3 linked regions of the Homo sapiens genome follow. The protein of the gene in region 1 purifies or fractionates together with the protein of each later gene. This does not show direct contact. Each region holds a gene or a part of one and is shown on either strand. Other genes may lie near its edges. The genes, in order: KIAA0586, KIF24 and CEP97.

Region 1 (3,654 bases):
GTCAGTGTAATAAGCAAATCTTGGACAAGTCTAAGTCAGAAAACTGGTGAGAGAATGCATGTTAGAAGTAAAAAGAGGACATAATGATAGACTTAGAAGGTATTAAGAATACAGTGTATTAAGAATACTGTGTACATGAATGCTACAAATTAAGAAATCTAGATGAAAGAAATAACTCACCAAAAATAACCATATAACTAAGAAGATTTTAATAGGCCAGTTACTGGGAAATAAATTTAAAAAAAACCTTCAAAGAGCAATCTCCAAAAGCAGTCATGATTTTGTTTGAGTTCTTGAAAAATTTTAAGAAACAGATTATGATCATGCTATATATTCTGCTCCAGAGCAATGAAAAGCAAAGAATGCCCCTCATGTCATTTTATGATGCTAACCTAGCCCAAGTATCAACACCTAACAATTAGTTTCATCAGAGATATTTTCATCATGCTATTGTAATTTAAACAAACCTAGTTCTTTAAATAAGTTATGAGTAAATTATATTTTATCATATGTTAAAAGATTAATACACAGTGATTGGAATGCAGCAATGTTTTAAAAATGGTAATAGCAAATTCTGATGTAACACTTATGCACCAGCCACTGTCCTCTGCACTTCTTTATTTTTGTTTTACTTTCTGTTTTTTATTTTGTTGAGACAGGATCTCGCTCTGTCACCCAGGCTGGAGTTCATGGGTAGGTTCACGGCTCACTGCAGCCTTGACCTCCCAGGCTCAAGTAATCCTACAACCTGAGGTCCCCCTAACCGCCCCCCCGCCAGAGTAGCTGGGACTACAGGCATGTGCCACCACATCCAGCTAACTTTTTTACTTTTTGTAGATATAGGGTCTCACTATATTGCCCAGGCTGGTCTCAAACTCCTGGGCACAAGAAGTCCTCCCGTCTCAGCCTTTGAAAGTGCTTGAATTACAGGCATGAGCCAACATACCTGGCTGCACTTCTTACATACTACTTGATCTTTACAAAAGCCTAGCACGTCTAATAATGTTTCAAGCTTAAGGAATAGAAGGGTTTAAGTCACCCAGGCAGTCTCTCTCCAGAGACAGTGCTCTTAACCATTGCGCCACTACAATAATTCATGATCTATTAATACATTTATATCATTTGATCAAATAAGAAAATATATGTGGCAAGCACTACAGTCACATTTAATGACATTTTATGCCCATATCTTCTTAATTTTTTTATTTTTTAAATTGACAAATAATTGTACCTATTTGTAGGGTACGTAGTGTTGTACTTATAATGTGTAGTGATCAGATCATGGTAATTAGCATATCCATCATCTGAAACATTTATCATTTCTTTGTGTTAGGAACCTTCAATATCCTCCTTTTAACCGTGTAACACATTATTGTTAACTATACTCATCCTACTATAGTCATTCCTCCTATCTAGCTGTAACGTATTCCTGACTTATTCCTCCTATGTAGCTGTAATTTTGTATCCTTTAACAAATCTCTCCCTATGCCCCCCTTCCATACCCATTTTATACTCAGTCACCACATACACACATAATACCCACAAACTTCTTTAAGAATAGAATGATACATTCCTTTTTTGTTTTTTTAAGATGGAGTTTCACTCTTGTCACCCAGGCTGGAATGCAACGGTGTGATCTTGGCTCACTGCAACCTCCGCCTCCCCAGTTCAAGTGATTCTCCTCCCTCAGCCTCCTGAGTAACTGGGATTACAGGCATGTGCCACCATGCCCGGCTGATTTTTTGTATTTTTAGTAGAGACGGGGTTTTGCCATGTTAGCCAGGCTGGTCTCAAACTCCTGACCTTAGGCGATCTGCCCACCTTGGCCTTCTAAAGTGCTGGGATTACAGGCTTGACCCATCGTGCCCAGCCAGAATGATACATTCTTAACATGAAGGACAATGTTTATTGGAAACCTGCAGTCAATACCCTGTTTAACAGTAAAATTGGGAACAAGACAAGATGTCCATTATTTTTTAAACTTAATTTGGAAGCCTTAGTTGTAGCAGTTAGATAAGAAAATGAAATCAGTTATGGATATTGAAAAAGAGGAGGCAAAGTTATAATTTGTAGAAAATATTGTGTATTCAGAATATCCAAGAGACCACTAACTCAGAAATTTTTACACTAATGGAAGTTCAGGAAGGTGACCAGATACTCAGCATATTATTCAATAATAAAATGAAATAACAATTACCATAGCAATGTCCCCACCGAAAAAAAAAAAGTTGGGAATACTCATAACCAGAAGTCTATAGAATCTGTCTGAAGAAGTATGAAATTTTGTCAAGGGAAATAACCAAAGGCTAAGATAAATTAAGAGACTCAACATGTTCTTGGATGGGAAGACTAAGCGCTGTAAAAATACAAGTTATTACAAAATTAGCATATGTTTGGCTGTGGTCAGTCTTAAAATTTTTTGTTATTTTGAGAATAAGTGGTAGATGTAAATTGGAAATGTAATTCTAACACTTACCTAGAAGAACATACTGTTGAGAAAAAAAAAGTATGTGCCTGTGTGTATACTGTATGTATATATTTATACTGTATATGTGTGTATATACATACACACAGAATTAAGGATACATCCATATAGAATACATTCAGTTTGGAATAGCTAAGATAAATTTGGAAAAGCAAAAACAAAAATGGGATGATGGAGAACTTGCCTTAATTGATATTATAATGTACTCTAAAGCCTTAGAGGAATGAAGAATCTGGCTAGAGTGTCTAGAACAACGGGAGAACTCCCTTGTGTGTGACTGGAGAGATAAGCAAGGGACTAGGTTATGAACTCCCCTAAAGGAATTTGGTCTTTAATATAAGATAAATGGCAAATCATTGAAAAGTTTTAAAGAATTAGATATATTTCTTAAAATACTCACTCTGGTAGCCATATGAAGAAATGGATTGGAAGAGGGCTAGACTATAGTCCAGCAAATGAATTGGCTCTGGAGTTTTCAGGGAGGAGTGAGTTAGATTGGTCCTGAATACACTGGGCAGTGGTGGTATGGTAATGGGAATCATGCTCAGTTGGAGAGGAAGAGACAAATTTGGAAGATGATTAGGAGATTGAATTGACAGGAATCATTAATTAGATATGAGGGTAAGGAAGGCACTAAGGTTGAATCCCAGATTTTTGGCTTTCACAAATACATGGTGAGTAGTATTACTCATTGAGAAAGGAAATCCTTGTGGGGGATAACTTATTCTGGGCATGGGCAAGGGTTTGAGGTTCCTGTGAGAAATGTGGGTAAGAAGTGTTCAGGAGAAAATGGAATATAAAGGTCAAGTTGCCAGACAGTGGCTCATGCCTATAATCTCAGCACTTTGGGAGGTCAAGCTGGGAGGATGGCTTGAACCTAGGAGTTTGAGATCAGCCTGGGCAACATAGCAAGACCCCATCTCTAAAAACAATAAATTAGCCAGGTGGGGTGGCATGTGCTTGTACTCCTCATTACTTGAGAGGCTGAGGCAGGAGGATCACTTGAGCCCAAGAGGTTGAGGCTGCAGTGAGCCATGGTTATGCTAATACACTCCAGCCTGGGTGACAGTGAGATCCTGTCTCAAAAAAAAAAAAAAAAAAAAAAAAAGGCCAAGTTCACAAAAGGGATCCAAGCTGGAAATTAAGATGCAGAAGTCATCATTATGTAA
Region 2 (3,654 bases), on another chromosome or scaffold:
CAAACTAGAGCTTTTTAAAAAAACATGCATGTCTTTTTGCTCCTTGAACTTGAAACTATGGGCCTTTTGTTCATATGAGTCATCCTAGAGCCCTGAACAATTTTAAAAAGGACCAAACATTTTCTATCCTCTTTGATCAGCTTTATATGATTAGGTTATTGATATCCAACAACTAAAGATTTTAACACAAAACCCTTATTAAAATGATGCATTAGGCCAGGCACAGTGGCTCACACCTCTAATCCCAGCACTTTGGGAGGCCAAGGCGGGTGGATCACCTGAGGTCAGGAGTTCAAGGTCAGCCTGGCCAACATGGCTAAACCCCATCTCTACTAAAAATACAAAAATTAGCAGAGCGTCATGGCAGGTGCCTGCAGTCCCAGCTATTCTAGAGGCTGAGGTAGGAAAATCGCTTGAACCCAGGAGGCAGAGGTTGCAGTGAGCCAAGATTGTGCCACTGCACTCCAGCCTGGGTGACACAATGAAACTCTGTCTCAAAAAAAAAAAAAAGCATTAAAAATTTTCATTTTTGATGAGCACAGTGGCTCATGCCTGCAATCCTGGCATTTTGGGAGGCCAAGGCAGGCAGATTGCTTGAGCCCAGGAGTTCGAGGCCAGCCTGGGCAACATGGTGAGACCCTGTTTCTACAAAAATACAAAAATTAGCCAGACATGATGGTGTGCACCTGTAGTTCCAGCTACTATTGGCTGAAGTGGGAGGATGGCTTCAGCCCAGGAGGTTGAGGCTTCAGTGAGCTATGCTCGCACCACTGCACTCCAGTCTGGGTGATAGAGCAAGACCCTGTCTCAAAACAAAAAATTCCCTTTTCTTGTGAAAAATCAAACATATGCAAAAGAAGAAAAAAATAGAACACTGAATCCCAATATGTCCATCATCCAATTTCTTTTTCTTTTTTCTTTTTTTTTTTTTTTTTTTCAGACAGAGTCTTGCTCTGTTGCCCAGGCTGGAATGCAATGGCACTATCTCACCTGTGAACTCCACCTCCTGGGTTTAAGTGAGCATGCCCAGCTAAGTTTTATATTTTTAGTAGAGATGGGGTTTCACCATGTTGGCCAGGCTGGTCTCGAACTCCTGACCTCAAGTGATCTGCCCGCCTCAGCCTCTCGAAGTGCTAGGATTACAGGCGTGAGCCACCGCACCTGGCCCGTCATCCAGTTTCAATGATTGTCACGATTTTCCCACAGTACCTCAAAATGGTACATTTCATTTATTCTGTCATTTATTTATTCCATCTGCAGTTTCATGCAAAAATGATGCATTTTAAAGTCCCTAAATGTTGGTTAAGAAAATAAAATTTGCTTTAAAACATGCCATAAAATTAGTGCTTTATGCATTCATTATATTAGAAAATTATTTGCTGGTTTTTTTTTTTTTAAACCAATTCAGATCCCAGTAAAAAAATTATTCTCCAGGCTGAGCGTGATGACTGATGCTTGTAATCCCAGCACTTTGACAGGCCAAAATGGGAGGATTGCTTGAGGCCATAAGTTGAAGACCAGCCTGGGCAAGATAGTGGGACCCTGTCCCTACAAAAATTACAAAAATTAGCCAGCTGCGGTGTTGTATGCTATAGTCCTAGCTACTTAGGAGGCTGAGGTAGAATTTCTTGAACCCTGGAGGTTGAGGCTGCAATGAGCCATGGCTGTGCCACTGTACTCCAGTCTGGGTGACAGAGTGAGATCCTATCTCAAAAAAAATTTTTTTTCAGCAGCCAGTTGGAGGGCTAAGGAAATCAGAATTGATATGAAACAATTGTATAAAATAGTATTCTATATATGATCTCTTAGGGGTTTTTTGTTTGTTGGTTGGTTTTTTGTTGTTGTTCTGTTATTTGTGTTTTTGCAAGGAAAAGGGCGGAGCAGGGTGGGGATGGAGATAGAAGAACTTTCTCAGGGTTGACACTTTACTTTGTAACTTTAAGAAATATATTATGCCTAATATACAGCAAAATGTACCAATACTTTTTTTTTTTTTGAGACAGAATCTGGCTCTGTCGCCCAGGCTGGAGTGCAGTGGCGCAATCTCGGCTCACTGCAAGCTCTGCCTCCCGGGTTCACGCCATTCTCCTGCCTCAGCCTCCCAAGTAGCTGGGATTACAGGCGCACGCCACTATGCCTGGCTAATTTTTTGTATTTTTAGTAGAGATGGGGTTTCACCGTGTTAGCCAGGATGGTCTTGATCTCCTGACATCGTGATCCGCCCACCTCGGCCTCTCAAAGTGCTGGGATTACAGGCGTAAGCCACCGCGCCCGGCTAAAAGGTACCAATACTTTGACCTGTTAAGTAATCTTGTCCTATTATTAAAAATTAAAAGCCTGTTTATAAACATATTAGACAGAACACTTCAGAGAAACAGAATCCTTGGACTGAGATGGAGAAAATCAGAGTTTGTGTTCGAAAACGCCCCCTGGGCATGAGGGAGGTACGTCGTGGAGAAATTAATATTATTACTGTAGAAGACAAAGAAACTCTACTTGTGCATGAGAAGAAAGAAGCAGTTGACCTCACTCAATATATTCTGCAGGTATGATGTTTTCGTTTTATGTTTGGAACTAATATTATCAAGTATGTCATTTTTTTTTGCTTTTTGTTTGAGTGGTGGCATACAAGTTTCTGTTAGAACACTGAAAATCAAGTTTCTGGTTCGGGTGTTGACATTCATTCCTGATGTGACACTGTATTAAGTCATTGATATCCAGGGCCTTCATTTTTTCAAAAGACGGTGCAATAGGGGATACAAAAACAATTTCTCTTGTGCAGTGGAGCTACATCATATATTCACTTAACATGCTTTGTGTGAATTTAATTATACATATTCAGCAAAAAAAAGGAGGAATGAAGGAATAAAAATAATTTAAATAATGAAGTGGGGCCAGGTGTGGTGGCTCACGCCTATAATCCCAGTGCTTTGGGAGGCTGCAGTGGGAGGATCACTTGAGCCCAAGAGTTTGAGACCACCCTGGGCACCATAGCGAGATCCTGTCTCTCCAGAAAAGATCTTAAAACTAGCCCAGCATGGTGGTGTGTACCTGTAGTCTTAACTACTCAGGAGGCTGAGGCAGGAGGATCACTTGAGCCCAGGAGTTCTGCATTACAGTGAGCTATGATTGCACCACTGCACTCCAGCCTGGGCAACAGAGGGAGGATCTGCCTCTAAAAGAATATAAAAATAAAAAACAAATAAATAATTAAGTAGTTGTCAACAGGACCAGTCACTGAATATATGACTATGAGATGTCACACAGTTGATTTCCATTCTTGCTTGCATCTCACAGTGTGAACTTCTCATTCTGCTGACTTTGAGACTTGGGTTTAATGATGGACAATATCTTTTTGGGCAACAGGACCGACAATTGCCAGCCACGTGCTTATTTTGATTCTCAGCTGTCTTGGGCTTATACTTAATTGGCGAAAATTGGGCTCTGAGCAGACCACTTTATACAGGGTAGATTGCAGTGGGTAAATAAAATCCAGAGATATGATTTCACATCTAACATATAAGGGTTTAAATAAAACACTAATAACTCAGCCATGTAAATAATGTTCACTGCCTGCTAGAGTGATTATGAAGAGTCCAAGGAGAAAGAGTTTGGTATTGAAAGAAACTTATTCCAAGCTGAAGGTACCTTGCA
Region 3 (3,654 bases), on another chromosome or scaffold:
TCAATGAATATAGAATCTGTATTTGATCATATATGAGGTAAATCAGCAGGAGGGAGTTTACCTGGTTCCAAAGGAATCTGAAAGCTTCTTCTTGTACAAATTTTTTAATACGTTCTTCATCTCTTTCTTTTCGTAATCTACAATAATTCAAAACACATTATTGACATAAGGAAGGGTGCTTTGACTCAGACTTCCTGTTACAACTCATAAACACATGCATTGTAAAGAGATTAATAATCTAATAGTTGTCTTTCCCACTTTTAGAATATCTAAATTAAAACCTTATTTTATTTTTATTTTTTTAACCTCAGAATCAAAATGGAACAGTTTTATAAGTGACATCATAAACCTTAATTTTGAACTGTGACTCAAAGTAGAAGCCAAAGGAGATATGACTGAAATACAGGTATTAGTTCTACAAAGTATTTCCAGTAATAAGAAATAAAATAAAATGTTAAATGGCTCTTTGTCTGGCTTCAATTTCTCAGCCAAACAAACCAAAGGAACAGAAAGTGCAAAAAAGGAGTGGCTATCCAAAGCCTCCAAAACAATTAAGGGTCACATTTAAGTACTCGTGATCCAGCTTGAAACACCCTCTGCTAAAGACTAATCCCATCAAACTTCACTATTCTGTTTCCCCAGGTCTCCGACCTACTCCTTGCTAACAAGAGACCTCCCATCCATTATTCCTCATTCATTCATCAAAGTCTGAGGTCTGGGCTCACTGCTGTTCTCTCCATACTTAGGCCTATCACAAACCTAAGGCTCCTCCTTTAGTGATCCATTATCACCCAAACTGTCAAGACCATTTTGTTCCACACCTCTGACCCAATTCTCCACTTTCTCTAGCCCCCCAAGCCTTTCTCCTGTGCCATCTAGAACTCCTGAATTATAATTAGCAAACTCCCTTATATACTCCATCTCTCTCTGAACTTTTCCTTGTCCAAAGCAGACCCACTTCTGAGAGCACTATAGCCCTCTGAAGTGGAAGCTATTTTTCCCTGTCACACATCAGGGTTCAAAAATTGCTTCTCACTATTGTTTTCAAATGATTCTTCATCTCCCTCCTTTAACTCCTGCCATCCTGCTAAATTTCCCAAAATTCGTTGTCAAGTACTGACCTCCCACCATCTGCTCCCATTCAATGAAGTCTCAGCACCAGGCTTTCTCTTTGCCCCATACCTGTCATCGTTTTTGGAGACCTCAACATTCACATGGATGCTCTAACAATAATCCACCCCATGTCAGTCACCCATTCTCATAGTCTCACCCTAGACCAAATCATTTTGACTACACTACTTTCAGAAATGGTTCTAAGCACCCAACACCAACCACTACTTCCTATCCTCCCAGTTCACTTGCTGTTGTACCCCACTGCAACAATCTAGACCTTCAGTCCAATGATCCTTCCCCCCTGCCTTCACTTCCCTTTTACCTCATTTAAAATTCCAGCCAGCCTGGGCACAGTGGCTCACACCTGTAATCCCAGCACTTTGGGAGGCCCAGGCAGGAGGATCACCTGAGGTCAGGAGTTTGAGACCAGCCTGGCCTACATGGTGAAACCCTGTCTTTACTAAAAATGCAAAAAAAAAATTAGCTGGGCATGTGGCAGGTGCCTGTAATCCCAGCTACTCGGGAGGCTGAGGCAGGAGGATCACCTGAACCTGGGAGGCAGAGGTTGCAATGAGCTGAGATCGCACCATTGCACTCCAGCCTGGGTGACAAGAGCAAGACTCCATCTCAAAAAAAAATTTTTTTAGATAAAAAATAAAAATAAAATTCCAGTCAGCAAGGTAATTCACACCTGTAATCCCAGAACTTTAGGAGGCTGAGGCAGGAGGACTGCTTGAGGCCAGGAGTTCAAGACCAGATGGGCAACATAGACTTCATCTCTTTAAAAAAATTTTTTTTAATTAGCTGGGCATGGTGGTGCATGCCTATAGTCCCAGCTACTTGGGAGCCTCAAGTGGGAGAATCACTTGAACCCAGGAGTTCAAGATTACAGTGAGCTATGATCACGCCACTACACTCCAGCCTCAGCAAGAGGGCAAGACCCCATCTCAAAAAACATATAAAATCTAAGATCTATCATTATTACTCCCTCTCAAATATCTTCAGCTCTCTTGCCCTTCCCCTGCTCTCTCTACAATATCACCTAGGAAAAAAAATCATTCCTGGCTGAACCAAATTAACCATGCCTGAATCAGACCAGAGCAGCTAAGAATTGCTGATGAAAATCATACAACCTGACCTATTGTTTTGCACTTTTAAGCATTTTCTCACATTGTCCAGCAACCCTCCTCCATTTTCCTCATAAGGTCATGTTTAAGATAACTACCTCACACCTCATACTTCTCTCCTTACACCTCCTTCACCCTCTCCTCATTTTCAGGTGTTGACCACATCTTATACATTATTGAAAAAGAAGCAGCATCAGACAGGACTTTTTCCCATCTCCCACCATCAAACCTACCACCTTACCTGCTCCTGCTCCCATTTCAGGCCACTTCCTCTACTTCGACACTACATTTCTTCCTCTCTTACCTTCTCAAGAACTGCAATCCTGCTCTTCCTCTTTTTTTTTTTTTTTTTTTTTTTTGCTGCACCATCAGTTTTTCCCTCCTTATTTATTCATTCCATCAACACATGAACAAACTCTATATCTCTCATCTACAAAAGAGAATGTTCCTTTAATCTAGATTCTCCTCCAGACACCACTTAACTCTCTTTTCTCTTGTTTTCCTCAAAACAACTCTTTCCAAGAATTGGCTACACTCATCCTTCAAACTCTTTACCTCTCATTCACTATTCAACCCATTCCAAAATGGCCTTCATCCCTCTACACCACTGAAGCTGCTCTTGGGAAGGTCACTGTGCAGTAAAGAGTTAACTCAGCAGGATGGGGATGTTCAAACACTGTACATTGCAAAGATAAGACTGGCCCTTGACTGACTCCTGGGAGATAATCTCCAAGCCCTTGGAATATCCTGACTGAAAAAGAATATCTTTATACACCTGGGGTCTTGGTCACATCAGATAGTTTAGGCAATCAATGATTTCTAGTCAACATCTGTTTTGTTCGCCTGGGGTCCTGGGTCCTGGGCCATGGAGTATCAGTGTGACCTCTATGTGGTCTGAGGTGTAAATAGTTAAGATCAGTTACATGGGTACTCAATACCTATGTGACTGGCCCACAATAAAAACCCTGGACACCAAAGATGAGGTAACTTTCGTCAGTTGGCAATACTTCATATGTGTTATCATACATCATTGCTGAGAAAATTAAGCCCTGTCTGTACAACTCCACTGAAAGAGAACAACTGGAAGCTTGCACCTCATGTCTCCTAGACTCTGCCCTAGGCACCTTTTTTCTTTACTGATTCTAATCTGTATCCTTTTGCTGTAATGAACCATAATGACGAACAGAATAGTATTTTCCCAAGTTCTGTGAGTCCTTTTAGCAAATCATCCAACCTGAGGATAGTCTGGAGAATCACCAACACAGTCACCAATAGCCTCCAACTGCCAAGTTTAATGCCTGTGTCCTCTCTGTGGCACCTCTCATCTCTCCTGAAACACTTGCTCCTGTTGAAGGTGGAACTCTCCTAGTTTTCCTACCACTCTGGCTGTCCCTTCTCAGTATCCTTTGCTGCC

What was found.
Region 2: the proteins of KIAA0586 (region 1) and KIF24 purify together in Homo sapiens (co-immunoprecipitation; one study listed by IntAct). This does not show direct contact.
Region 3: the proteins of KIAA0586 (region 1) and CEP97 purify together in Homo sapiens (co-immunoprecipitation; one study listed by IntAct). This does not show direct contact.

What each region holds. Positions count from the first base shown.
Region 1 is NC_000014.9:58,434,137-58,437,790, forward strand, and holds part of KIAA0586 (protein TALPID3), read left to right. Parts: intron 1-3,654. UniProt on the Homo sapiens protein: Required for ciliogenesis and sonic hedgehog/SHH signaling. Required for the centrosomal recruitment of RAB8A and for the targeting of centriole satellite proteins to centrosomes such as of PCM1.
Region 2 is NC_000009.12:34,305,144-34,308,797, reverse strand, and holds part of KIF24 (kinesin-like protein KIF24), read left to right. Parts: intron 1-2,356; coding exon 2,357-2,546; intron 2,547-3,654. UniProt on the Homo sapiens protein: Microtubule-dependent motor protein that acts as a negative regulator of ciliogenesis by mediating recruitment of CCP110 to mother centriole in cycling cells, leading to restrict nucleation of cilia at centrioles.
Region 3 is NC_000003.12:101,758,968-101,762,621, reverse strand, and holds part of CEP97 (centrosomal protein of 97 kDa), read right to left. Parts: intron 138-3,654; coding exon 62-137; intron 1-61. UniProt on the Homo sapiens protein: Acts as a key negative regulator of ciliogenesis in collaboration with CCP110 by capping the mother centriole thereby preventing cilia formation. Required for recruitment of CCP110 to the centrosome.